5 separate regions of the Homo sapiens genome follow, and regions 1, 2, 3 and 4 are each linked to region 5. Evidence: fine-mapped expression QTL. A gene starts in region 5. Each other region holds a variant in brackets. All regions are shown on one strand. Distances are between the middles of the regions.

Evidence for each region. PIP is the estimated chance that this variant, and not a neighbour inherited with it, causes the effect.
Region 1: its variant is fine-mapped to the expression of DENND4C in thyroid (GTEx, PIP above 0.99).
Region 2: its variant is fine-mapped to the expression of DENND4C in nasal epithelium (TOPMed, PIP 0.92).
Region 3: its variant is fine-mapped to the expression of DENND4C in esophagus mucosa (GTEx, PIP 0.93).
Region 4: its variant is fine-mapped to the expression of DENND4C in whole blood (INTERVAL, PIP 0.93).

The regions. Positions count from the first base shown.
Region 1 is chr9:19,202,157-19,207,261 of GRCh38, forward strand. No RefSeq gene overlaps it. Among named protein-coding and RNA genes, the nearest start is that of DENND4C, 26 kb to the right of the region's middle. RefSeq lists an enhancer at 290-808. The variant T/C (reference allele first, on the strand shown) is at 2,873.
Region 2 is chr9:19,288,961-19,294,065 of GRCh38, forward strand. DENND4C (DENN domain containing 4C) reads left to right here. Exons shown (of 33, transcript NM_001330640.2): 5 at 1,744-1,916. Among named protein-coding and RNA genes, the nearest start is that of DENND4C, 61 kb to the left of the region's middle. The variant C/A (reference allele first, on the strand shown) is at 2,143.
Region 3 is chr9:19,178,828-19,183,932 of GRCh38, forward strand. No RefSeq gene overlaps it. Among named protein-coding and RNA genes, the nearest start is that of DENND4C, 49 kb to the right of the region's middle. The variant T/C (reference allele first, on the strand shown) is at 2,412.
Region 4 is chr9:19,255,737-19,260,841 of GRCh38, forward strand. The region is part of intron 1 of DENND4C (DENN domain containing 4C); the gene reads left to right. Among named protein-coding and RNA genes, the nearest start is that of DENND4C, 28 kb to the left of the region's middle. The variant A/G (reference allele first, on the strand shown) is at 2,449.
Region 5 is chr9:19,228,039-19,233,139 of GRCh38, forward strand. DENND4C (DENN domain containing 4C) reads left to right here and starts at 2,655. Exons shown (of 33, transcript NM_001330640.2): 1 at 2,655-2,795. RefSeq lists enhancers at 1,813-2,062, 2,447-2,953, 2,954-3,459 and silencers at 2,093-2,392, 2,473-2,842, 3,063-3,202.

The DNA.
Region 1 (5,105 bases), 26 kb before region 5:
CTCCTTGAAAGCCCTTTTCTACGGTCGAAGTCTACAATTCTATGATCCTGAAAAAGCTAAAATAAAAGCTAGTAGCCACTGGCTTCTAAAATGTTTACCAATCACCCCAGAGCTTAAGGAACAAAGATCAAAACAAGCCTTGGGCTATAATCACCTTATCCAAACCTACAAAATAAACAGCAGACTAAAAATAGAGAGGGGTAAGTCTTATTTCAAAGTGAAATGATCTGAACAAAGGGCAGCTGGTTTTCACGATCTTTCTTATCTCTTAGATAAAGTTTGTTAATGGGCCATAAATACACAAAGGGTCTGGTTGCCAAGTATCCCTGCAAAAGGGAGGAGAGGCCATATATCACTTCCTGGGGGATGGGAGGGAGTAGCATCTCAAGGAGAAGTAGCACAAAGGCCCCTCCTGAGATAGGAAACAGGCCCTGGGTCAGGCAGCTGTGGGTCCGGCAAACACCCTCAGATCTCAGAACAAGAAACCCGTTGAAGGCGGGGCACAATGGCTCCTGCCTGTAATCCCAGCACTTTGGGAGCCACAGTGAGGCTTGAAGCCAGGAGCTAGAGACCAGCCTAGGCAACATAGGGAGACCCGCCCCCCTGCATCTGTCTGTCCAAACAATTTAAAAATTAGCTGGGCACAGCTGGGCACGGTGGCTCAGGCCTGTAACCCCAGCACTTTGGGAGGCCGAGGCGGGTAGGATCACGTGAGGTCAGGAGTTCGAGACTGGCCTGGCCAACATGGTGAAACTCCATCTCTACTAAAAATACAAAAAATTAGCCGGGCGTGGTGGCAGGCGCCTTTAATCCCAGCTACTTGGGAGGCTGAGGCAGAGAGAATCGCTTGAACCCAGGAGGTGGAGGTTGCATTGAGCTGAGATTGCACCATTGTACTCCAGCCTGGGCAAAAAGAGTGAAGCTCCTTCTCAAAAACAAAACAAAACAAAAATTAGCTAGGCATAGTGGCATGCACCTCTAGTCCCAGCTCCTCGGGAGGCTGAGGTGGGAGGATGGTTTGATCCTGGGAGGTTGAGACTGCAGTGAGCTGTGATCACACCACTGCACTCCAGCCTGACGACAGAGCAAGACCCTGTCTCAAAAACAAACAAAATACATATGTGTGTGTGCGCATGCGGGCGTGTGTGTGTGTGTGTAAAACCTGTTAAAGAGCTGGGGGCTGGGTGGAACAGAGATTGTGCTGGCCAAGGTGGGGAGAAGCTATATACTATATGGAGGACAGGACAGCCCTCACACAGAAACACCTGAAGGAGCCTCAGCTGATATTCTCCTGATGACATAGTCTAACTCCTTGCACTCAAAATGGGATCAGTGGACCATCAGCACAGGCAGCATCTGTGAGTTTATTAGAAATGCAAAATCTGGCCAGGCGTGGTGGCTAATGTCTGTAATTCCAGCACTTTGGAAGGCCAAGGTGGGTGGATCACCTGAGGTCAAGAGTTCAAGACCAGCCTTGCCAACATCACGAAACCCCATCTCTACTCAAAATACAAAAAACATTAGCCGGGCATGGTGGCGCACACCTGTAATCCCAGCTACTCAGGAGGCTGAGGCAGGATAATTGCTTGAACCCAGGAGACGGAGGTTGCAGTGAGCCAAGATGGTGCCACTGCACTCCAGCCTGGGTGACAGAGTGAGACTACTTCTCAAAAAAAGAAAGAGGCCAGGCGTGGTGGCTCACGCCTGTAACCCCAGCACTTTGAGAGGCCAAGGTGGGCGGATCACGAGGTCAGGAGATCGAGACCATCCTGGCTAACATGGTGAAACCCCGTCTCTACTAAAAATACAAAAAATTAGCCAGGCACGGTGGCAGGCGCCTGCAGTCCCAGCTACGCAGGAGGCTGAGGCAGGAGAATGGTGTGAACCCGGGAGGCAGAGCTTGCAGTGAGCCGAGATTGCGCCACTGCACTCCAGCCTGGGTGCAAGAGCGAGACTCCATCAAAAAAAGAAAGAAAGAAAGAGAAAGAAAGAAAGAAAGAGAGAAAGAAAGAAAAGAAACGCAAAATCTCAGATCCAACACACACCTACTGATCACAGTCTGCATTTTACCAAGATTCCTGGTGATTGCCTGTGCATTAAAGCTTGGGTGTAGCTGGAAAAGTACCTTCACAAAGACATCAACCATGCTGGTTTTACCTAGTGATTAGGGAAAACCCTGAGCACTCAATCCATTGTATCTATGAGTTCCAGCATTTTTTTTTAAAGAGGGTCTCCCTCTGTTGCTCAGACAACAGTGCAGTGGTGCAGTGCAGTGCAGTGGTGCAATCTCCACTTACTGCAATCTCCACCTCCAGGGCTCAAGCGATCCTTCACTTCAGTCTCCAGAGTAGCTGGCACCACAAGTGCCATGCCACCATGCCCGCCTAATTTCTGTATATTTTTGGTAGAGATGGAGTCTCACCATGTTGCTCAGGCTGGTCTCCAAGTCCTGGCTTCAAGAGATTTTCCTGCCTTGGCCTCCCACAGTGCTGGAATTACAGGCCTGAGCCACTGCGCCTAGCTGTTAATTATATCTTTATTTTATTTTATTTATTAATATTATTTATTTTTTAGTAGATACAGGGTTTTACCATGTTGCCCAGGCTGGTCTTCAAGGCTGGTCTTGAACTCCCGGACTCAAGTGATCGGCCCACCTTGGCCTCCCAAAGTGCTGAGATTACAGGAGTGAGCCACCGTGCCCAGCCTCCTTATTTTTTTTATTTTTATTTTTTCGTGAGACAGAGTCTGGCTCTGCACCCAGGCTGGAGTGCAGTGGCATGATCTTGGCTCACTGCAACCTCCGCCTCCTAGGCTCAAGTGATCCTACTACCTTAGCTTCCTGAATGGCTGGGACTACAGGTACAGGCCACCA[T/C]GCCTGGCTAATTTTTGTAGTTTTAGTAGAGATGGAGTTTTGCCATGTTGCCTGGGCTGGTCTCGAATTCCTGAGCCCAAGCCATCCACCCTCCTGGGCTTCCCAAATAGCTGGGATTATAGAAGTGAGCCACTGGGCCCAGCCCTGGCCCTACCTGTATCTTAAAAAAAAAAAAAAAAAAAAAAAAAAAAGGTCCAGGCATGGTTACTCACACCTGTAATCCCAACACTTTGGGAGGGGAGGTAAGAGGATCACTTCAGGCCCTGAGTTCAAGACCAGCCCAAAGGCTGGGCGCGGTGGCTCACGCCCATAATCCCAGCACTTTGGGAGGCCGAGGCAGGTGGATCATGAGGTCAGGAGATCGAGGCCATCCTGGCCAACATGGTGAAACCCCGTCTCTACTAAAATACAAAAAAAAAATTAGCCGGGCATGGTGGCATGCACCTTTAATCCCAGCTACTTGGGAGGCTGAGGCAGGGGAATCGCTTGAACCCAGGAGGTGGAGACTGCAGTGAGCCGAGATCACGCCATTGCACTCCAGCCTGGCAACAGAGCAAGACTCCATCTCAAAAAAAAAAAAAAAAACAATAATAATAATAATAATAATAAAAGACCATCCCAGAAAACAAAGTGAGGTCCTGTTTCTACAAAAAAATTTTTAAAAAATCAGCTGATTATGGTGGCACATGCCTGTAGTCCCAGCTACTTGGGAGGCTGAGGTAAGAGGATTGCTTGAGCGAGCAGTTGGAGGCTGCAGTGAGCTATGATTGCACCACTGCACTCTAGCGTAGGCAACAGAGTGAGATCCTTCTGGAAAAAAAGAAAAACAACTGCACATTATTGGCATGGCGGTATGCTAGGACCACACTAGGCTGTAAACTCCGTGAGGGCAGGAACCATGCCTGGTTTGTTCAACACAATATCCCCAGCATGAATTTGGCATGCACCTAACATATGGCTCAGGAAATATCTGAAATGAAATATCTGAATATTTGAATGAAAGACAAGTTGAAGTGAATGAAAGGCAAGTTGATTCTCCATGAACATATCATTTTCAGGTATGTTCTCCACGGACATACCTGAAAATGGAATAGACATTAGCTGCACTTAGATGAAACTACTCTGCTTTAATCCCTGGATTTTCATGAAATCAAGGATGAATTTACCTGACATTGAAAAGGACCATGAATCTTGTGTGAGTTGATATCGTATGATGTTTATCATCATAACTTAATTGTTTTACATTGAATTTTAATATTTATTTTTTAATTTTAATTTAATTTTATTTATTTTGAGATGGAGTCTCGCTCTGTCGCCCAGGCTGGAGTGCAGTGGCTCGATCTCGGCTCACTGCAACCTCCGCCTCCTGGGTTCACGCCATTCTCCTGCCTCAGCCTCCCGAGTAGCTGGGACTACAGGCGCCTGCCACCACACCTGGCTAATTTTTTATATTTTTAGTAGAGATGTGGTTTCACCATATTAGCCAGGATGGTCTCGATCTCCTGACCTTGTGATCTGCCCGCCTTGGCCTCCCAAAATGCTGGGATTACAGGCGTAGGCCACCGCGCCTGGCCTTTTAATTTTTATTTTTTTGAGACAGTTTCAGAAAAGAAGTTTCACTCTGTCACCCAGGCTGGAGTGCAGTGGGGCAATCTCAGCTCACTCCAACCTCTGCCTCCCGGGTTCAAGTGATTCTTCTGCCTTAACCTCCCAAGTAGTTGGGATTACAGGCATGCACCAAAAAACCCAGCTAATTTTTGTATTTTAGTAGAGACATGGTTTCACGATGTTGGCCAGGTATGGTTATTATTATTTTTTTTTAGGGACAGATTATCACTATGCTGCCCAGGCTGGCCTTGAACTCCTGGGCTCAAGCAATCCTCCTGCCTTAGTCTTGCAAAGTTCTTAGGGTTACAGGTGTTAGCCACTATGCCCAGCCTAGTTCAATAATTTCAACTTTACCATAATATGAGGAAAACTTGAGCGTAATATTGGTCTGTCTTATCTGTTCCAGTTTCTCAAATACTTTTTATTTTTACAGAAAGGGTCTTGCTCTGTCACCTAAGCTGGAGTGCAGTGGCATGATCATAGCTCACTGTGGCCTCAAACTCCTGAGCTCAAGCCACACTCTTGCCTCAGCCTGCAAAGAGCTGGGATTACAAGTGTGAGCCACTGTGCCCGGCATAGTTTCTGAAATGCTTTTAGAAATGCTACTTATAGCAGCATTAGCTGT
Region 2 (5,105 bases), 61 kb after region 5:
AAGTTGCTGACTCTCTGACCTTTTATATTTTGGCAATCAGAAAGGTGTCAAACTGCGTCTTTACTTCTTATATTTCCTTCTCTTATCTCTTTGTGTCTGATTTGAAACCACATGTTACTTGCCATGAAAGGTGGACTTGCTTCCTTTCTCCTTTGTTGCAAAGAATCAGCTATATGGAGGAGAGGAGGGCCTGAGAAACTTTTCTGCCATGAAGTGTTTGAGAAATCTATCGCCACATTCTTACTGCACATTAAAGTGTCAAGGGCTGTAAAGATTTAAGTGTCACGTCTTCATTCCACTGGTATGGTGGGATAAAAACTGAAAATACAGGTATGCTCCAGTTGTAAATAGAAAAGATACTGGAATACTTCTTTGTGAAAAGAAGCAGTGCTAATTACTATTTGATTATGCACAGTTCTTGAAATAAAGTTTTACTTCAGGGAAGTCAGGCAAATTCATATCCAAAAAATCGTGATTTTCATAAAAACATTCATACTAATGAACCAAACCATTTAATTTATAATATAAAAATAATGGCAACGACTAACGTATAAAATTCAGTATCATTTTAAAATCTGATACTGTAGGCTGGGCATGGTGGCTCACGCCTGTAATTCCAGCACTTTGGGAGAGTGAGGCGGGCAGATCGCTTGAGGCCAGGAGTTTGAGACCAGCCTGGCCAACATGGTGAAACCCCGTCTCTACTAAAAATACAAAAATTAGCCAGGCGTGGTGGCACGCATCTGTAGTCCCAGCTACTTGGGAGGCTGAGGCACGAGAATCGCTTGAACCCAGGAGGCGGAGGTTGCAGTGAGCCGAGATCACACCACTGCACTCCAGCCTGGGTGACAAAGCAAGATCCTGTCTCAAAAAAAAAAAAAAAAAGTGATACTGTTAATACTGCTGTAATATGTTGATTATGTGTGATGTCCTTTTTTTGTTGTTGTTGTTGTTTTTGGTGGAGAAAAGATATCACTTAAAAAACTTATAGAAAGAAACTGTACCAAAGTATTCAGTTATTTGATATGAGACACTTATTTTAGAATAGAGAGTTTTAGATACTGAATTTGGGCTCAAAATTCTACTACTGATTTTGAAGTTTTTCACTTAGAGATGGTCTATATATTGATGACCTTAGAGGCTAATGAACAGATGCCATGTAGCTAATTTATTCTGTGGGTCTTCATTGTGGTTCTCAAAGTGTCACTTGCTCCTACTTTCTGGGTCTCACATACTCTGTACTTAGTCACAGTGTTTCTGTCTCATTTACTTTTCATGTTGCATGCCTTTTACACTGCTTCCCTCTTAAGATGAGTTTAGGGGCTGTGATAATTTCTGTTGCCTCAGCATTATTTCATAACACTTGTCTCTTCCCTGAATTTTTCACAGAAGACTAACTGAAATAGTTGGTAAATTTTTCTGTATGTTTCTTACCATTTTCCACAAGGTGTTGGCATGTGTAGAAGAAAATACATTAAGATTGGTGATCAAGATTGGTTGAATGGAATCTCAACTAGTATATTAATACATTTTAAATGTTACAATGAACTGTAAATTCATGGGTAAAATATCAGGGGTAAACTTATTTTAGTTTCTGTTATAGCAAGGGGGAAATCAATTTTAAAATACCACACAAGTATTGCCATGAAATTCGGCATTAAAATATTCCATTAATACCTATCATATGCAATTTATGGAAAAGTAACTATTTAAAAAATTTATTGTTGTCTCATTCTTCAAAAGGTTTAATTTTTAGATATCCAGAAGAGGACTATGAGTCATTTCCACTCTCAGAATCAGATGTACCTCTTTTCTGCCTTCCTATGGGAGCTACTATTGAGTGCTGGGATCCTGAAACCAAATATCCACTTCCAGTTTTTTCAACTTTTGTCTTGACAGGTTCTTCAGCCAAAAAGGTATGTTTTTGTCTCATTGATTAAACACATTTTGTCCATGTTTTTATTTCATAAAAAGGTTAATACAAGTTTTATTTGAATGTTAGGATTATTTGGACATGATACATTTTGGTTTAAATTTACACTGTCATCCCCAAGGTGAGAAATCAACATGAAAATTGCTATCAGGATATTGATACCTCTGGAACTTCTACAGAAGCAAAGATAAAGTCTCTCTGGATAGACA[C/A]CTTCAAAACCCAGGTGTCAAGATGAGATGATTATGACAGATCAAGGACATAGGTACCATAGAAAGAATCGACAGACACAATTAAAAAGCAGGGTTAGACCCTCAAGACATTGAAATGACAGAATGACAATATAAAGGATGTTATAAATTAAAATATCATTGAGATGACCTAAGAACTAATGGAGGGGCTCAAAATATCAAGGAAGGAACAGGATATTTTGAAAAATGAATAGATTGGGAAAAGAATCAAGTGTTTAGAAATGAAAAATATGGTCCTTAAAATTAAAAATTCAGTGAATGGGTTAAACAGCAGAGATAAGGCCAGGTGCGGTGGCTCACGCCTGCAATTCCAGCACTTTGGGAGGCTGAGACAGGTGGATCACTTCAGGCCAGGAGTTCAAGGCCAGCCTGGGCAACATAGCACAACTCCGTCTCTACTGAAAATACAAAAAATTAGCCAGGCTTGGTGGTACACGCCTGTAATCCTGGCTACTCGGGAGGGTGAGGCATGAGAATTGCTTGAACCCGGGAGACAGAGGTTGCAATGAGCTGAGACTGCACCATTGCACTCCAGCCTAGGCTACAGAGCGATACTCTTTCTAAAAAAAAAAAAAAAAAAATAGCAGAGATAAGACATACATGAAGGGATAATTAATGAAGTGGAAGATAGGTTACCTTAAATGTGGTACATACAAATGTAAAACATAAAAGGAGTTTTAAAATGTAGCAGATAGAACTAGAAGGTCTAATAGATATTTAATGAGTTACTGAAGGAGAGACTAGAAAAGGACAAGGCTACATCCTAAGAGCTAATGGTTGAGAGTTTTCCAAGGTTGATGAAAAAATTGAGTCTTCAGGTTAAAGATGTACTCTGAATCTGCAGCAGAGAAAAATAAACAAATAAGTAAATAAATAAATAATCCCACCTCTTTTTTTTTTGAGACGGAATGTCACTCTTGTTGCCCAGGCTGGAGTGCAGTGGTGCGATCTCGGCTCACTGCAACCTCCACCTACCAGGTTCAAGTGATTCTCCTGCCTCAGCCTCTTAAGCAGTGGGATTACAGGTGTGCGTCACCACGCCCAGCTAATTTTGTATTTTTTTTTTTTAGTAGAGACAGGATTTCACCCTGTTGGTCAGGCTGGTCTCAAACTCCTGACCTAAAGTGATCCACCTGCCTCAGCCTCCCAAAGTCCTGGATTATACAGGTATGAGGCACCATGCCTGGCCTATCCCGCCTCTTATTATATCATGGTGCTATCATGGAACACCGGAGACAAAACAACTAGAGAGAAAAGACATTTATTGTCTTATGTAAAACATATATTGTATATAACAGTAATAATGACATAAACTGATTTATAAAGAAGAGAAGGCAAAAATAAACAATATTCAGTATAAAAAGCTGATAGCAGTAGAAATTTCAAAATTGAAAACTTTCTTTTCTTTTTTTTTTTTTTTTGAGACGAAACCTCACTCTTATCCCCCAGGCTGGAGTGCAATGGCACAATCTGGGCTCACTGCAACCTCCGCCTCCCGGGTTCAAGCGATTCTCCTGCCTTGGCTCCCCGAGTAGCTGGGATTACAGGCACCTGCCACCACGCCCGGCTAATTTTTGTATTTTTAGTTGAGATGGGGTTTCACCATGTTGGCCAGGCTGGTCTCGAACTCCTGACCTCAGGTGATCCACCTGCCTCAGCCTCCCAAAATGCTGGGATTACAGGTGTCAGCCAATGCGCCCAGCAAAAATTGAAAACTTTCTAAGGAAATTTAATAGGCGATTTTATTGAAAAAATATATAATCTGAACTGACTCATGCAGATGAAACAAAATACATCTGTGACCTCATTCTACAGGTACAGGCTACACCTTTATAACTACTGTGATAAAGATAATATATGTAAAGTATCCAGCATAGTGCCTGGAACATAGAAAATACTGAGTGAAGGTCAATATTATATTAACTTGATTGCCCACTACTAACTTGTTAGCTTAATAATCATTTACAATTTCTCCTGCTGAAAGTAGTAAATATAACTGAAAATTTTAAGATCTTCAAACATTAGTTACCTAATATGCTTTGGCAGTAGAGAACAATAAAGTCTCATTTGAGATGTGGGTACTAGGTGATCTGCTTGGCTTTTTCATTGTTTAGGGGATATCAACATGTAAGCATTGAGGTGTGTAAAATTTAGGTATTTGTCATTGCTTGTTAAAAACTTTGAGATCACTTTGAAATAATTATATCTGGGAATATTGTGTGTATAAAGGCAAGGGTTATAATGAAAAAACAGTTGGCAAGATTTATAAAATACAGAAGTAAGGATTGATTGTTGGGAGAAGGGGATGGGTTAAAAACTTTGAGATCACTTTGAAATAATTGTATCTGGGAATGTGTGTGTAAAGGCAAGGGTTCCTGTGATATATATAATGACTAAACAGTTGGCAAGATTTATAAAACACAGAGGTAAGGATTGATTGCTGGGAGAAGGGGATGGGTATAGTGATAGAATTTCTTTGCAGTGTTTTAAGGAATGGGCAGATCAGAGGAAGTACCAAGGCTAAACAAAATACATAAAAGCACAAAATTATGAACTAGTCTATATGCCTGGTAGCTCTGTATTGTTGAAAAGCAACAGCAGGTACTGTGAGGAATTGAGAGCATCATGCCACTTACACGGACTGTGGCATTTTACCTGTAATGGGGAACTTTTGAAGGATGAGATATTACCTCTGAAGGACTGTTTCTTCAGTGTATTTTTCACTAAAATACTTTCTCTTCTGACTTGAGACCAGTTAGGGCTTCAGTAGTTGCTTTGATATGTGGTAAGTGGAAGTGGAATTGAACATGACTTCGAAGTTTCTACCTTGGGAATTGTGTAGCATGACTGAGTAAGATTAGGAATATTGGATGAAGTGTTTAGATGATGAGCTCACTTTTGAAAATATTGGTTTGAGATGCCTG
Region 3 (5,105 bases), 49 kb before region 5:
TTTATTAGTTGGTTTTGAGACAGGGTCTCACTCTGTCACCCAGGCGGGAGTGCAGTGGTGCGATCACGGCTCACTGCAGCCTCGACCTCCCAGGCTCAAGCATCCTTTCGCCTCAGCCTCTGAGTAGTTAGGACTAGAGGCCCTCGCCACAACACTCAGCTATTTAAAAACAATCTTTAGTAGAGATGGGGTCTCACCATATTGCCCAGGAAAGTCCTGAGCCCCTGAGCTCAAGCAATCTGCCTGCCTCCAACTTCCCAAAGTGCTGGGATTACCGGCATTAGCCACTGCGCCCGTTCTCCTGTAAAATGCTTTCTAAAAGCAGGAGGCTGAGGCAGGAGAATCACTTAAACATGGGAGGCAGAGGTTGCAATGAGCTGAGATTGCACCATTGCACTCCAACCTGGGCAACAAAAGTGAAACTCTGTCTCAAAAAATAAATAAATAGGCCAGGCATGGTGGCTCATGCCTGTAATCCCAGCACTTTGGGAGGCCAAGGCGGGTGGATCACCTGAGGTCAGGAGTTCAAGACCAGCCTGGCCAACATGGTGAAACCCTGTCTCTACTAAAAATACAAAAAATTAGCCCGGCTGTGGCGGGCGCCTGTAATCCCAGCTACTCAGGAGGCTGAGGCAGGAGAATCGCTTGAACCAGGGAGGCAGAGGTTGTAGTGAACTGAGATCATGCCATTGCACTCCAGCCTTGGCAACAAGAGCAAAACTCCACCTCAACAAATAAATAAATAAAAATAAAAATAAAAAATAAAAGAATCAATTTGGCTGGGCACTGCGGCTCATGTCTTTAATCCCAGTACTTTGAGAGGCCGAGATGGCGGATCACCTGAGGTCAGGAGTTCGAGACCAGTCTGGCCATCATGGTGAAACCCTGACACTACAAAAAATACAAAAAAAAAAAAAAAAATTAGCCAGGCATGGTGGTGGGCACCTGTAGTCCCAGCTACTTGGGAGGCTGAGGCAGGAGAATCGCTTGAACCTGGGAGGTGGAGGTTGCAGTGAGCCGAGATTGTGCCAAAGTACTCCAGCCTGGGTGACAGAGTGTGACTCTGTCTCAAACAAAACAAAACAAAAAAGTGAGGCTGGCAAGGTGGACTGATAAAGTCATAAGGCCTCAAACACTAGCCGACGGAAATTAATAAGTAGGCAGTGAAGTCCCACTGAAGATTTTGAGGAAAGCAGTGACAGAATGACATACTAAAAGCAATATGTTAGGAAAAACCATTAAGGAGAAATTTCCAAAACTTGACAAGCCACCATGATTTTTTTTTTTTTTTTTAAACAAGAGTCTTGCTGTTGCCCAAGCTAGCATGCAATGGCACAATCTCAGCTCACTGCAATCTCTGCCTCCCAGGTTCAAGTGATTCTCATGCCTCAGCCTCCCAAATAGTTAGGATTACAGGTGTGTGCCACCACACCCAGCTAATTTTTTTTTTTTTAAACAAAGTTTTGCTCTTCTTACCCAGGCTGAAGTACAGTGGTGGGGTCTCGGCTCACTGCAACTTCTGCCTCCTGTGTTCAAGCAATTCTCCTGCTTCAGCTTCCTGAGTAGCTGGGATTACAGGTGTGTGCCACCATGCCTGGCTAATTTTTTATATTTTTAGTACAGACAGGGTTTCACCATGTTGGCTAGGCTGCTCTCGAACTCCTCACCTCAGGTGATCCACCTGCCTTGGCCTCCCAAAGTGCTGGGATTGATTACAGGCATGAACCGCAATGCCCAGCCAAAGTTTATATTTTTAATGGAATCATATGAAAGTAATGTTCCTATCAAATGGTTCATTTATTTGTAGAGATGTTAGCCAGTATTTTTTTTTTTTTTTTTGAGATGGAGTCTCGCTCTGTCGCTCAGGCTGGAGTGTAGTGGCGCCATCTCGACTCACTGCATCCTCTGCCTCCTGGGTTCCAGCAATTCTCCTGCCTCAGCTTCCTGAGTAGCTGGGATTATAGGCAGGCGCCACCTTGCCTGGCTAATTTTTTTTTTTTTAGCAGAGACTAGAAAAAATGTTTGGCCATATTGGCCAGGCTGGTCTCAAACTCCTGACCTCAGGTGATTCACCCATCTCAGCCTCCCAAAGTACTGGGATTACAGATGTCAGCCACAGCACCCAGCCCCAGTATTTCTTTGAAATACAAAATATACACTATCCTTTTCTTTTTTGCTGCTCTAGGGGAAAATGTACATACTATCTTAAGGCAAACACAGAATATACTAAAACTAAATGCTGGCTAGTTATAAGATAGGAATTTGGCAGGACTTGTTTCACAAGACGTAGGTCACAAAGACCCTGCTTATAAAACAGGGTGCAGTAAAGAACCCAGCCAAGGGCTGGGTGTGGTGGCTCATGCCTGTAATCTCAGCACTTGAGAAGCCAAGGTGTGAGGATCGCTTGAGGC[T/C]AGGAGTTCAAGAACAGCCTGGCAACATAAAAACAAAACAAAACAAAAAAACAAAACAGTTAGCCAGCTCCCTCCCAAAATCAAAATCAAGATGGCAAAGAAAGTGACCTCTGGAGGACGTGCGCAGTGGTTCACGCCTGTAATCCTAGCACTTTGGGAGGCCGAGGTGGGTGGATCACGAGGTCAGGAGTTCGAGACCAGCCTGACCAACATGGTAAAACCCCGTCTCTACTAATAATACGAAAATTAGCTGGGCCTGGTGGCGGGCACCTGTATTCCCAGCTACTCAGAAGGCTGAGGCAGGAGAATCGCTTGAACCTGAGAGGCAGAGGTTGCAAGTGAGCTGAGATCTCGCCACTGCACTCCAGCCTGGGTGACAGAACAAGACTGTCTCAAAAAAAAAAAAAAAAAAAAAAAAACAGAACGTGACCTCTGGTCATTCTCATTGCTCATTATATGCTAATTCTAATGCATTATCAGCGCCCTGAAAGACACTCCCACTGGCACCATGAAAGTTTACAAATGTTATGGCAACGTCCCTAAGTTACCCTATAGAGTAGGAGATGGGGAGGACCCTCAGTTCTGGGGAACTCCCCACCCCATTCCAAGAAAACATGAATAATCCACCCCCTTTTCAGCATGTAATCAAGAAATAACCATAACTATAGTTAGTCCAGCAGTCCGTGCTTCTACTCTGTCTATGGGGTAGCCACTGTTTCATTCCTTTACTTTTTAATAAACTGGCTTTCACTTTATTCGGTCCACTTGCTCCTGTTTTTTTTTTTTTTTTTGAGACAGAGTCTTGCTCTGTTGTCCAGGCTAGAGTGCAGTGGCATGATCTCCGCTCACTGCAACCTCCACCTCCCTGGTTCAAGCAATTCCCCTACCTCAGCCTCCCGAGTAGCTGGGATTACAGGTGCATGCCACCACACCCAGTTAATTTTTTTGTATTTTTAGTAGAGATGGGGTTTCACCATGTTGGCCAGACTGTTCTCGAACTCCTGACCTGAGGCAATCCACCTGCCTCAGCCTCCCAAAGTGTTGGGATTACAGGCATTAGCCACCATGGCCTCCTTAATTCTTTTCTGCCAAAAGTCAAGAACCCTTATGGCCTCCTGGGCTGATCCCCAGTTTGGGGAGTTGCCCTGTGACAGTTAGAGAACCCAGATGTCTTTATATTGTAAAATTACTTTAGGTCTTTGTGCCGACAGTTTGAAGACAGCTGTCAAAGGGGACTTCTAGCTCTGGGCTCCAGTACATTAAATAAGAAATATCCTGATGTACCCCCAGATCAACCTGCATTAGAATCACTGTAGGTATTTTTACAAATATAGGTTCTGAGGCCCCACCGCATACCCACTTAATTAGAATGGGGAGAAGGGGAGTCTGTGGTTTTACCAAGCTTTGTGAATGATTTTTAAGCATTCTGCTGCATTGCTTTCTAAACCCAGGCCTGTTTCCCACACTACTGTAATCAAGAGGGAACACTGAAGTTTCCTCAGTTCCTTCCTGTTTTTTCCTGTTTCCTTCTGCAGTGACCAACACTATCAGAAATGGCATTTTGGCAGGGACAGGGAGTACAGGAATGGAAACAGGAAAGGCATAAACAAGACTCCTCCTCTGCCCCAGGACTCTCTCCTGTGGGTCACATTACCAGTGAAGGCTTGTGAACTCTGATTTAGCTAAGTTAATTTTGTGCAAAAAAATAAATTTTGGCCCGGTGCGGTGGCTCACACCTGTAATCCCAGCACTTTGGGAGGCCGAGGCAGGTGGATCATGAGGTTAGTTCAAGACCAGCCTGTCCAAGATGGTGAAACCCTGTCTCTACTAAAAATACACGCAAAAAATTAGCCAGCGTGGTGGTGGGCGCCTGTAACCCCAGCTACTCGGGAGGCTGAGGCAGGAAAATTGCTTGAACCCAGGAGCTGGAGGTTGCAGTAAGCCGAGATCACGCCACTGCACTCCAGCCTGGGCCACAGAGAGGGACTCCATCTCAAAAAAAAAAAAAAAAAAAGAATTCTGGGGAGTTGTAGTGCTTGTTAAAAACAGATTCCGGGCCGGGCGCAGTGGCTCACGCCTGTAATCCCACCACTTTGGGAGGCCGAGGTGGGTGGATCACAAGGTCAGGAGTTCAAGGCCAGCCTGACCAAGATGGTGAAACCCCATGTCTACTAAAAATACAAAAATTAGCTGGGTGTGGTGGCGGGTGCCAGTAATCCCAGCTATTCGGGAGGCTGAGGCAGATAATTGCTTGAACCCTGGAGGCGGAGGTTGCCAGTAAGCCAAGATTGCACCATTGCACTCCAGCCTGGGCAATAGAGGGAGACTTCATCTCAAAAAAAAAAAACACAGATTACAAGGTCCTTTAGTAGAGATGATGATACCTTAATCTAGATGATTCAAATGTAGGTAGCTCTCAGAACACACTTTGGAGAACAATGACTTAAATCCAGTGAAGAAAATCTCCAAGAAGCTGTGACAATATGTGGTCTCTTGAAATCTAGAGATTGGTGCTACATGTGATGGCTCACCCCTGTAATCCTAGCATTATGGGAGGCCAAGGCGGGTGGATCACTTGAGATCAGGAGTTGAGACCAGCCTGGCCAATATGGTGAAACCCCATCTCTACCAAAAATACAAAAATTAGCCAGGTGTGATGGCGCGTGCCTGTAATCCCAGCTACTTGGGAGGCTG
Region 4 (5,105 bases), 28 kb after region 5:
ACTGAAAGGAGAAAAAGACAAATCCATAATTTTAGTCAGAGATTTTAATGCCATTCTCGTACTAGTTGATAGCACAAGTGGACAGAAAACCATCAAGGATGTAGTAGACTTGTTACAACACTATTTACTTGACTTGATTTATAGAGCCCTCTGTGCAACAACAGAGAGACATTCTGCTAAAGTGCACATGGAATATTCATCAAGACAGACCACATTCAGGCTGAGCATGGTGTCTTAACTCCTGTAATCCCAGCACTTTGGGAGGCCAGGGTGGGAGGATTGCTTGAGGCCAGGAGTTCAAGACCAGGCTGGGCAACATAGCAAGACCCTGTCTCTGCAAAAAAATAAATGAAAAAAAAAAAAAGACCAGATTCTTAGCCATAAAACAAGTCTTGATAACTATGAAAGAATTTGGGTTATACAAAGTACATTCTCTGACCATAAGGCATTTAAGTTAGAAATCAGTAACAGAAAGATTCTTGGAAAATTCCCAAGTACTGAATTTGGAAACTGAAAAACATACTTTATTTTTAAAAAAATTTTTCTTTTTTTTCTTTTCTGTTTTTTTTTTTGTTTTTTTTTTTTTTTTTGAGATGGAGTTTCGCTCTTGTTGCCCAGGCTGGAGTGCAAGGGCGCAATCTCTGCTCACTGCTCACTGCCATCTCCACCTCCTGAGTTCAAGCGATTCTCCTGTCGCAGCCTCCCGAGTAGCTGGGATTACAGGCATGCGCCACCACACCCGGCTAATTTTGTACTTTTAGAAGAGAGAGGTTTCTCTGTGTTGGTTAGGCTGGTCACGAGCTCCCAACCTCAGGTGATCTGCCCGCCTCAGCCTTCCAAAGTGCTGGGATTACAGGCGAGAGCCACCACGCCTGGCACTTGCTTTTCTTTAAATTTTATTTTTTTACTCTTTAAAATTAAATCTGTGTCTTTTTTATGTTATTTTTTATTTTAATTTGTAGTTTTTTAGTAAGAAACCTCATCCGAGAAAAAATACTTTAAAATTATCTATTGGGCAAAGAAAATATTTTTTAAAAAAGGAAATAAAACAAGGCCGGGTGCAGTGGCTCACGCCTGAAATCCCAGCACTTTGGGAGGCCGAGGCAGGTGGATCACGAGGTCTGGAGATCGAGACCATCCTGGCTAACATGGTGAAACCCTGTTGCTACTAAAAATACAAAAAATTAGCCGGGCGTGGTGGCAGGCGCCTGCAGTCCCAGCTACTCAGGAGGCTGAGGCAGGAGAATGGTGTGAACCTGGGAGGCGGAGGTTGCAGTGAGCCGAGATCACGCCACTGTACTCCAGCCTGGGCGACAGAGTGAGACTCCGTCTCAAAAAAAAAAAAGGAAATATATTTTGATCCAGGTGAGGTTTCAGAAAACAGAGTGAAGAAAAGGAAAAAAAGGAAAAAAGAATTAAAGTTTAAAAAAGAAAACGGCTATAAAAAAATATTCTGAACAGAATAAAAAGAAGGCCGGGTGCGGTGGCTTGCACCTGTAATCCCAGCTACTCAGGAGGCTGAGGTGTGAGAATCGCTTAAACCCAGGAGGCGGAGGTTGCAGTGATCCAAGATCACATCACTACACTCCAGCCTAGGTGACAGAGTGACACTCTGTCTCAAAAAAAAAAAAAAAGAAAACACAACATATCTAGATTTGTGGGGTACCACTAAAACATTGCTTAGGAAATGATTTGTAGCACTAAATAACTAAATTAGAAAAGATCTCAAATCATTGACTTCAGCTTCCACCTTAAAAAACTTGAAAAAGAAGAGCAAATTAAACTCTACATAAGCAGAGAAAAGAAAATAATAAAGATCAAAGTAAAATTCAAAGAAATATGAAACAGAAAAGCAAGAGAAAAATCAATGAAACCAAATGTGATTTTTAAAATGGTTAAACTTCTAACCAGGCTGATCAGACATAAAAGAGAAGATACAAATTACTGATATCAGAATTAGAGAGGTGACATCACTACATATTCTAAAGACACTAAATGGATAGTAATAGAATATTATGAACAACTTTATGCCAATAAATTTGACAACTTAGATGGAATGACAAATTCCTTGAAAGACACAAACTACAAAAGTTTATTCAGGAAGAAATAGGGGCTGGGCAAGGTGGCTCATTCCTGTAATCCCAGCACTTTGGGAGGGGGAGAATCGCTTGAGCCCAGGAGTTTTAGACCAGCCTGGGAAACATGGTGAGACCTCATCTCCAGAAAAATAAATTAACTGGATGTGGTGGTTCATGTCCACGGTACCAGCTACTTGAGATGCTGAGGTGGGAGGAACACTTGAGCCTGGGAGGTTGAGACTGCAGTGAGCTGTCATTGTGTCACTGCACTCCAGCCTGGGCAACAGAGTAAGACCCTGTCTCAAAAAATCAATCAATCAATCTATCTATCTATCAATCAAGAAGAAATAGGCAAGCCAAATAGCCTCGT[A/G]TGTGTTAAAGGAATTGAAATCATAGTTTAAAAATCTACCCGCATAAAGATCCAGACTCATGTAATTTCACAGGCAAATTCTATCAGACGTTTAAGGAAGAAATAACACCATTTCTCTACAACCTTTTCCAGAAAATTGAAGAGGAGGAAATTTTTCCCAACTTGTTCTGTCATGTTAGCATTATCTTGATACCAGAACCAAAGATATTACAGGAAAACTATATGCCAGTATTCCTCGTTAACATATATAAAATTTCACACAAAATTGTAGCAAATAGAATTCAAGAACATATAAAAAGGATGACAGATCATGACCCAAGTGGGGTTTATGCCAGAAATTCAGGATTGATCTATAACTTGAAAATCAATGTAATTTACCATATTAACAAATAAAAGAAAAGCCATAATGATCTCAGTAGATGCAGAAAAAGTGCTTGATAAATTCTAATATCCATTCTATTTTCTTTAAATTTTAAGTTTTTTTTTTTAAAGACAGATTCTTGCTCTGTTTCCAGGTTGGAGTGCAGTGGCGTGATCTCGGCTCACTGCAGCCTCTGCCTTCTGGGTTCAGGAGATTCTCCTGCCTCAGCCTCCAGAGTAGCTGGGACTACAGGTGCACGCCACCAGGCCCAGCTAATTTTTGTATTTTTATTAGAGACGGGGTTTCACCATGTTGGCCAGGCTGGTCTTGAACTCCTGACCTCAGGTGATTTGCCTGCCTCGGCCTCCCAAAGTGCTGGGATTACAGGTGTGAGCCACCCTGCCTGGCCTAAATTTTAAGTTTTTATGGGTACATAGTAGGTGTATATATTTATGGGATACATGAGATATTTTGATACAGGCATACAGTGTGTGTTCACATCAGGGTAAATGGAGTATCCATCACTTCAAGTGTTTATCATTTCTTTGTTCGAACATTCCAATGGTACTTTTAGTTATTTTAAAATATACAATAAATTATTGTTGACTGTAGTCATCCTGTTGTGCTATCAAATACTAGATCTTATTCATTCTAACCCTATTTTTGTATGCATTAACCGTCTCCATTCCGCCCCCGCCACCTCCCCACTGCCCTTTGCAGCGTCTGATAGCTATTATTCTATTTTCTGTTTCCATTAGTTTAATTGTTTTAAGTTGTAGCTCCCACAAATGAGTAAGTGAAGTGAAAACGTGAAGTTTGTGTTTCTGTGCCTGGCTTACTTTACTTAATATAATGACCTCCAGTTCTATCTATGTTGTTCTAAATGACACAATCTTGCTCTTTTTTATGGCTGAATAGTACTCCGTTGGGTATATATACCATATTTTCTTTTCTTTTTTCTTTTTTTTTTTTTTTTGAGATGGAGTTTTGCTCTTGTTGCCCAGGCTGGAGTGCAGTGGCGCGATCTTGGCTCACTGCAGCCTCCGCCTCCCAGGTTCAAGCGATTTCTCCTGCCTTAGCCTCCCGAGTAGCTGGGATTACAGGCATGTCCCACCACTCCTGGCTAATTTTGTATTTTTAGTAGAGACGGAGTTTCTCCATGTTGGTCAGGCTGGTCTCAAACTCCTGACCTCAGGTGATCCGCCCGCCTCGGCCTCCCACAATGCTGGGATTACAGGCGTCAGCCACCACGCCTGGCTCGAATGCCACATTTTCTTTATCCATTTGTCTGTTGTTGAATAACTTAGGGTTGCTAAGTTGAAGCAACTTAGGTTCCTTCCAAATCTTGGCTATTGTGAATAGTGCTGCAATAAACATGGGAGTGTCAGTATTTCTTTGATGTACTGATTTCCTTTCTTTTTGGTATATATCTATCATAGGGGATTGCTGGATTGTATGATAGTTCTGTTTCTAATTTTTTGAGGAACCTCTATACTATTCTCCATAGTTACCATACTAGTTTGTGTTCCCACTAACAGTGTATGAGGGTTCCCTTTTCTTCATATCCTTGCCAGCATTTGTTATTGCCTGTCTTTTGGACCTAAGCCATTTTAACTGGTGTGAGATGATATCTCATTTTAGTTTTGATCAAAGAAATTTTGATGCATTTCTCTGATGACCAGTGATGTAGAGCACCTTTTCGTATACCTGTTTGACATTCATATGTCTTCTTTTGAGAAAAACCTATTCAGATATTTTGCCTGTTTTTAAAACTGGATTATTAGATTTTTTTCCTGTAGAGTTGTTTGATGTCCTTATATGTTCTGGTTATGTTATGTTATGTTATGTTATGTTATGTTATGTTATTTTTGAGATGGAATCTTGCTGTGTCACCCAGGCTGGAATGGGGTGGCATGATCTCGGCTTACTGCAACCTCCACCTCCTGGGTTCAAGCAGTTCTCCCACCTCAGCCTCCCGAGTAGCTGGATCTACAGGTGTGTGCCATCACACCCGGCTAATTTTTGTATTTTTAGTAGAGACGGGGTTTCATTATGTTGGCCAGGCTGGTCTTGAACTCCTCACCTAGGTGATCCACCCGCCTTGGTCTCCCAAAGTGCTGTAATTACAGGTGTAAGCAACCATGCTCGGCCTATGTTCTGGTTATTAATACCTTATCAAATGGATAGTTTGCAAATATTTTCTCCCATCTGTAGGTTGTCTCTTCACTTTGTTGATTGTTTCCTTTGCTGTGCAGAAGCATTTTAACTTGATGTGATCCTATTTACCTATTTTTGC
Region 5 (5,101 bases):
TGAACTTATTTCAGTTCTGGGCCCCTAAGCATGCAGTTGGGAAGGTTGCTGAATCAAGAACTTCCAGATCTGAGAACAGTTAACTCACATGAAAAATTAGTCCCAAAACATTCAAGTTCATTCTATGAAATTTTTGGTGGAAAATGGCAGTGAAAAATCTATGGTAAATCTATAGGACGATTAAGATAGTGAGAAAAATTAAAGAAAATCCTAAGCCTTCCATTGCAAAGTGAGAAAAATCAAGTCAAGTGGAAGAGAGATACTGGCCTCATCCATTTTTCATTTCTGTGGGTGCCATAAAAAAAGAGAGAGAGAGAGAAAAAAAAAAACTCTGAATCCCTGAGAGCTAATTAAATGAATGTACCCATTAAGAAATCTTGTCTTGGTTGGGCACGGTGCCTCATATCTGTAATCCCAGAGTTTTGGGAGGCTGAGGTAATAGGATTGCTTGAGTTCAGGTGTTCAAGACTAGCCTGGGCAATATAGTGAGACTTTATATCTTCCCCTAACCCCCCCAAAAAATTAGTGGGGTGTGGGTGGGTGGTTGGCACAGGCCTACCATCTCAGCTATTCGGGAGGCTGAGGTGGCAGGAAGTTAAGGCTGCAGTGAACCCTGTTTGTGCCACTGCACTCCAGCCTGGGTGACAGAGGGGGGGATCCTGTGTCCAAAAAAAAGGAGGGGGCGAAGAAATCTTGTCTTTCCTTTTCTAGTTGGGATGAGGAAAAATTAAAAAATATATATGTAAATAAAGAAAGAAATCTCGTTTATATTGCTTTAAAACTGCTAATTAATTTAGACTTTGGGAAAGAAGGAAAAGAAGCCCACAAGCTAAATTTTGTTTCACTGTTTCTTTTCTTTTTTTTCTTTTTTTTTTTTTTTCTGAGGCAGAGTTTTGCTCTTGTTGCCCAGGCTGGAGTGCAATGGCGCAATCTCGGCTCTCTGCAACCTCCGCCTCCCAGGTTCAAGCCATTCTCCTGCCTTAGCCTCCCGAGTAGCTGGGATTACAGGCATGCACCACCACGCCCGGCTAATTTTGTATTTTTAGTAGAGACAGTGTTTCTCCATGTTGGTCAGGCTGGTCTGGAACTCTCGACCTCAGGTGATCCGCCCGCCTCAGCCTCCCAAAGTGCTGGGATTACAGACGTGAACCACCGCGTCCGGCCCACAAGCTAAATTTTGAAGTATTAGATCCTTTCTTAAACTTTTGCTCTTCGGATTGTCAATGTCAAAGATAGTTTCCAGGGGGACCAAATTGGCCCCAAACTGTTATTAAATAAGCCTTAACTTTTATTGCTGCGCATTTCTTCTGAAATCAATTCTGACTGCTTACGTGGTTAGAAAAATAGTTTCTGCTATTGAATATAAAACTCAAATTATCCATGGCTATGCAATAAACTTCAGAAATAAATGGACAGCAGTGCATTTATGACCCAGGTATAATCTCACATTTTTATGCAAAAATACAGATTAAATAAGGAGAGTGTAATTTTCAGGAAAATGATTATTTATGTGGATACTCACCAGATATGCAGAAATCTTACCAGTTCTGATTTTGACCTGCCATGGAATCTGAAGTCATTCGCCTTTTTTTCCCCCCAGAGGTAAAAAAGTTATCTCTACTTCAAACCATTTCCTTCTTCCTAAATAACTAGTAATTGCTTTTTCATTTACTATGATAACTCAAAAACGTTGTTCAAAAATATCCTGCAAAATTTGCATTATAGAGAAACGACTCTGCAGGCGTCTGTGTCGATAATGAGGCTACACTTAGGAGGCGTGAGGGTACTGACTATGCAAATGAGCGATTTCTCCATTAGGAATTCCCATCCCCAAATCTGGGCCGAAGGAGAGACACCGAGCGCGGCCAGGGACTCACATGGTGCACTGGAGCCAAGGGGTTTCGGGAAGGGCCAGCGCGCGGGTCTCTCTAGAGCCCTCTACTCATGCGTGGGAATTCCAGATTCCTTCCCTGGGAAGGAATCTTCACGTATCTCCCGGCACTGTCCTCAGTGACCTTCAGCCACTCGGCATCACTTTCCCTGTCTTTGAAAACTCCGAGAGAAGCAGCCGCCACCTGCCTCAGGCCAAGGCAATAAACCCACATCACACCGCCAGTCTGAGCCCTGCAGGAAGGGGTGCACAGCGGCCTCCAGAGCGCTTTCTCCCCAGCTCTGTTTCTGCAGGCTCGGCCGCGCGAACGCTGAGGAGGGGATCGGAGGCCCGCAAGGCTCAGACCCCGCGCCCCGCGGGGGTCGCACAGGGGTCGGGCGGGGGAGGGGAGCGGTGGCTGCAGGGCCTCGGCCCTCCCCGGGGGAGGGGCCTGAGCACCGCACCGCCCCCCTCCTCCCTGCGTCTTCTCCCTCCCACCCCCCGCCCTTTTCCACCCGCCCCCGCAGGAGGAAAGGGAGAGGGAGGGGGAAAAGAAAGTGCTGTTTTGTGGAAAGGGGCGGAAGGCGGGGGAGAAAAAGGGAACAGAAACATGGCGGTCAGGTCTTGGGACGGCTGCGCCGCGGGCAGCTCCTAGGCGACGCGCCGCCCGCACTGTCCGACGGCTCACAGCGCGGAGGCACCCGCGCGGGCCAGCGCTCCGGCCATCGCCCCTGGCTGTAGGCGGCGCCCCTCGGAGACCCTGCCCGCGAGGCGGCGCAGGCGCAGACCGGACTGAGGCGGCGGCGGCCGCTGGAGCTAGTCCCCCGCCCTGCCCTGCCGAGCGCGCCCAGTCCGCGAATCCGGTGCTTTCTTGCCCCAGGAAGAAGCCGTGTCGGGGCTGCGCTGACAGAGGAGCAGGCAGCAGGTGAGGCTGCGGCGCGGGGCCTTTGGCGGAGGAAGCCTGCGCCGTGCCCTCGCGGGGCCTGCGCTGCAAGGCTGGGAGGGCGCGGGACAGGTAGAGCCCGGAGGGCTGAGTTCCGAGTGGCTGGCCCGCGGGGGGTCGCCGAGGAGGCGGAGAGTGGCCGCGGCTGGCGTTCGTGGCCTAGTTTCTCCGCGGTTTCCGGGGGCGGGGAGTCCCCGGATCCTGCGGGATGCAGTCGGGGAAAGGCTGCCCCTGAAGAGCCTCCCCGCGTCGCCCGCCGGGCCCATGAGAATCGTTTGCGTACAAGCGCGAGGGGTCTGGGCCCGGGGGACCGCCGGGGCGACGGCCGCTTTGGTGGGGGCCGGGGTGCGGAGGGAGCAGGATCGGGGCTTCCCAGAGGGGGTCGAGGCTGAGAGAGCGGAGAGCTAGAGCCAGGGGTGGCGGGCAGTCTCGAGAGGAGTCGGGGGACTGAGAAGTGTCGGGGACAACGGGGAGGAGGGGGACCTGGGCAGGTGTCTCTGGTGAATTGAAGACATTTCCTTCTCTGTCTTACGGTGGCCGATCCTCAGGGCTTCTTTGTCGGGGATGACTTTCTAGGAGGGCAGTATCCTTTTAACTCTGGAGTGACTAAACACAAAACCAAGGAATGAAGTCCTAAGGCTGACTCCTGTAAAGAGCTGTAACTTTTTCTGTTTTAAGAATGCTGTCACGTCTTTTTTTTTTTCCTCCCCTTTTCTGCTTGATAGACCTTTTCCCTCTCGAAGACCGTCTTTTATCTGCACTAATAAGGAATTACCCAGTTTTTAAATAGTACCGCCTCCTTCTCCCCTTATGTATGTTTGTCACACGGGAAAATTTAGGGTAGTTACCGCGGGTACTTGTGCAAATTTGAGGGAAAGTGTCATTTCCAGTAGTGAACCCTCAGCTGTCTCTTTGTGCCTCCGAGATACTGTCAAGCGTTGTAGCCTGAGAAATTGACCCACTGAGCCTGCTTAATTGTGTGCAAACCCGTGTTGAGGCGTTCTTCCTAGGCCCTAATTTACGTAGGAATAGGTTTTCCCTTCCGGTCTGTGTATAATGAGAGGGGAGAACGTTAGTGCTAAGGCGCTAAGTTCTGGATAAATACTTGATTTGATGTGATAGTGTGTATTACTCTATCAGAAATGCAGAGCGTTGTATGATTTTTCTGTGTACACGCGATAAGAGCAATATTAGTTGCAAAAGGAAGTTTTCATCTTTGAACATTAAAGGTATCCTTTATTCTTGATCACTATAGCATGCAAAAAAGAAACTATATTTTCTGTCCTGTTCTTTGTATTACTGTTAAAGAGTTGGTAAACTGCCGTCTTGCTGTGAGACTGGGAAGTCGGCAATGAAGTTAGATTTGTATTCATGAACATGATCTGCCTGTCATATAGGCTTGCTTTGACTTGTTTTTTTTTTCAGTAGTGGCAAAGGGTTTTCTGCCACTCAATCCACACTTTCCTCCGCATTGGTATCTCCGTTGACCATTTTGCAAAATAGTTTATTGAGATTAGGGGTCTGATCTTTTGTATAACCTGTTGTAGTGAACTGATCATATGCGACTTGACTTTGGCCAATAGTACCTCGTGCAGTGTACAGTACTACTATTTAGACTTACTGATTTGGGTAATAGAAAAGCTATGATGTTAGAAATGTTGTCGTTGTATATTGGAGAAATTTTGAAGTTGCATATTGGAGTAATTTAGTCCTGTATGCTTTGTAAATGAGTGCATTCTATTGTCGAGAGTAAATACAGTATTTTGTAGTATAAACTTAAGCTTTTAGCTGAAGAAATTGGCAGCATAGTTGGAGTGTGGAGACTATTCTTAAAACGCAAATGTTTTAAATTACAAGGAACTGTAGTGGTGTGTAGGCTGTAACAATTCCTGGTGCCAAATTTGGGAGATTATTTGGTTGAGCTACTTTCTATAAAGAAACATATTAAGTATCTGCAATAAAAGTGGATTTGTAGCTATACACAAGGGATTTTACATTATAAATAATAACTCAATAAGGCACCTTTCTTTGCTCTTTGTGTATCTGCCAGTTAAGACCAAAACATCTCATATTTTCACTGGAGCTTCCTGCCAAAACAAATACTGGTTTTGCATTGGCTTTGCTGCTCAGTTTGAAAGCTAGGGGAATCTCTTAGAGCCTACTCTGGTTCTGGAGGCTGCCTGATTAAAAAAAAAAAAAAGAAAAATTGAAAGCTAGGTTTCAGTCATATGCTTGCACCTTAAGTACAGGTTGTAAAGTAAAAAAGAAAGTTGCTGAGTCAGTGGCAG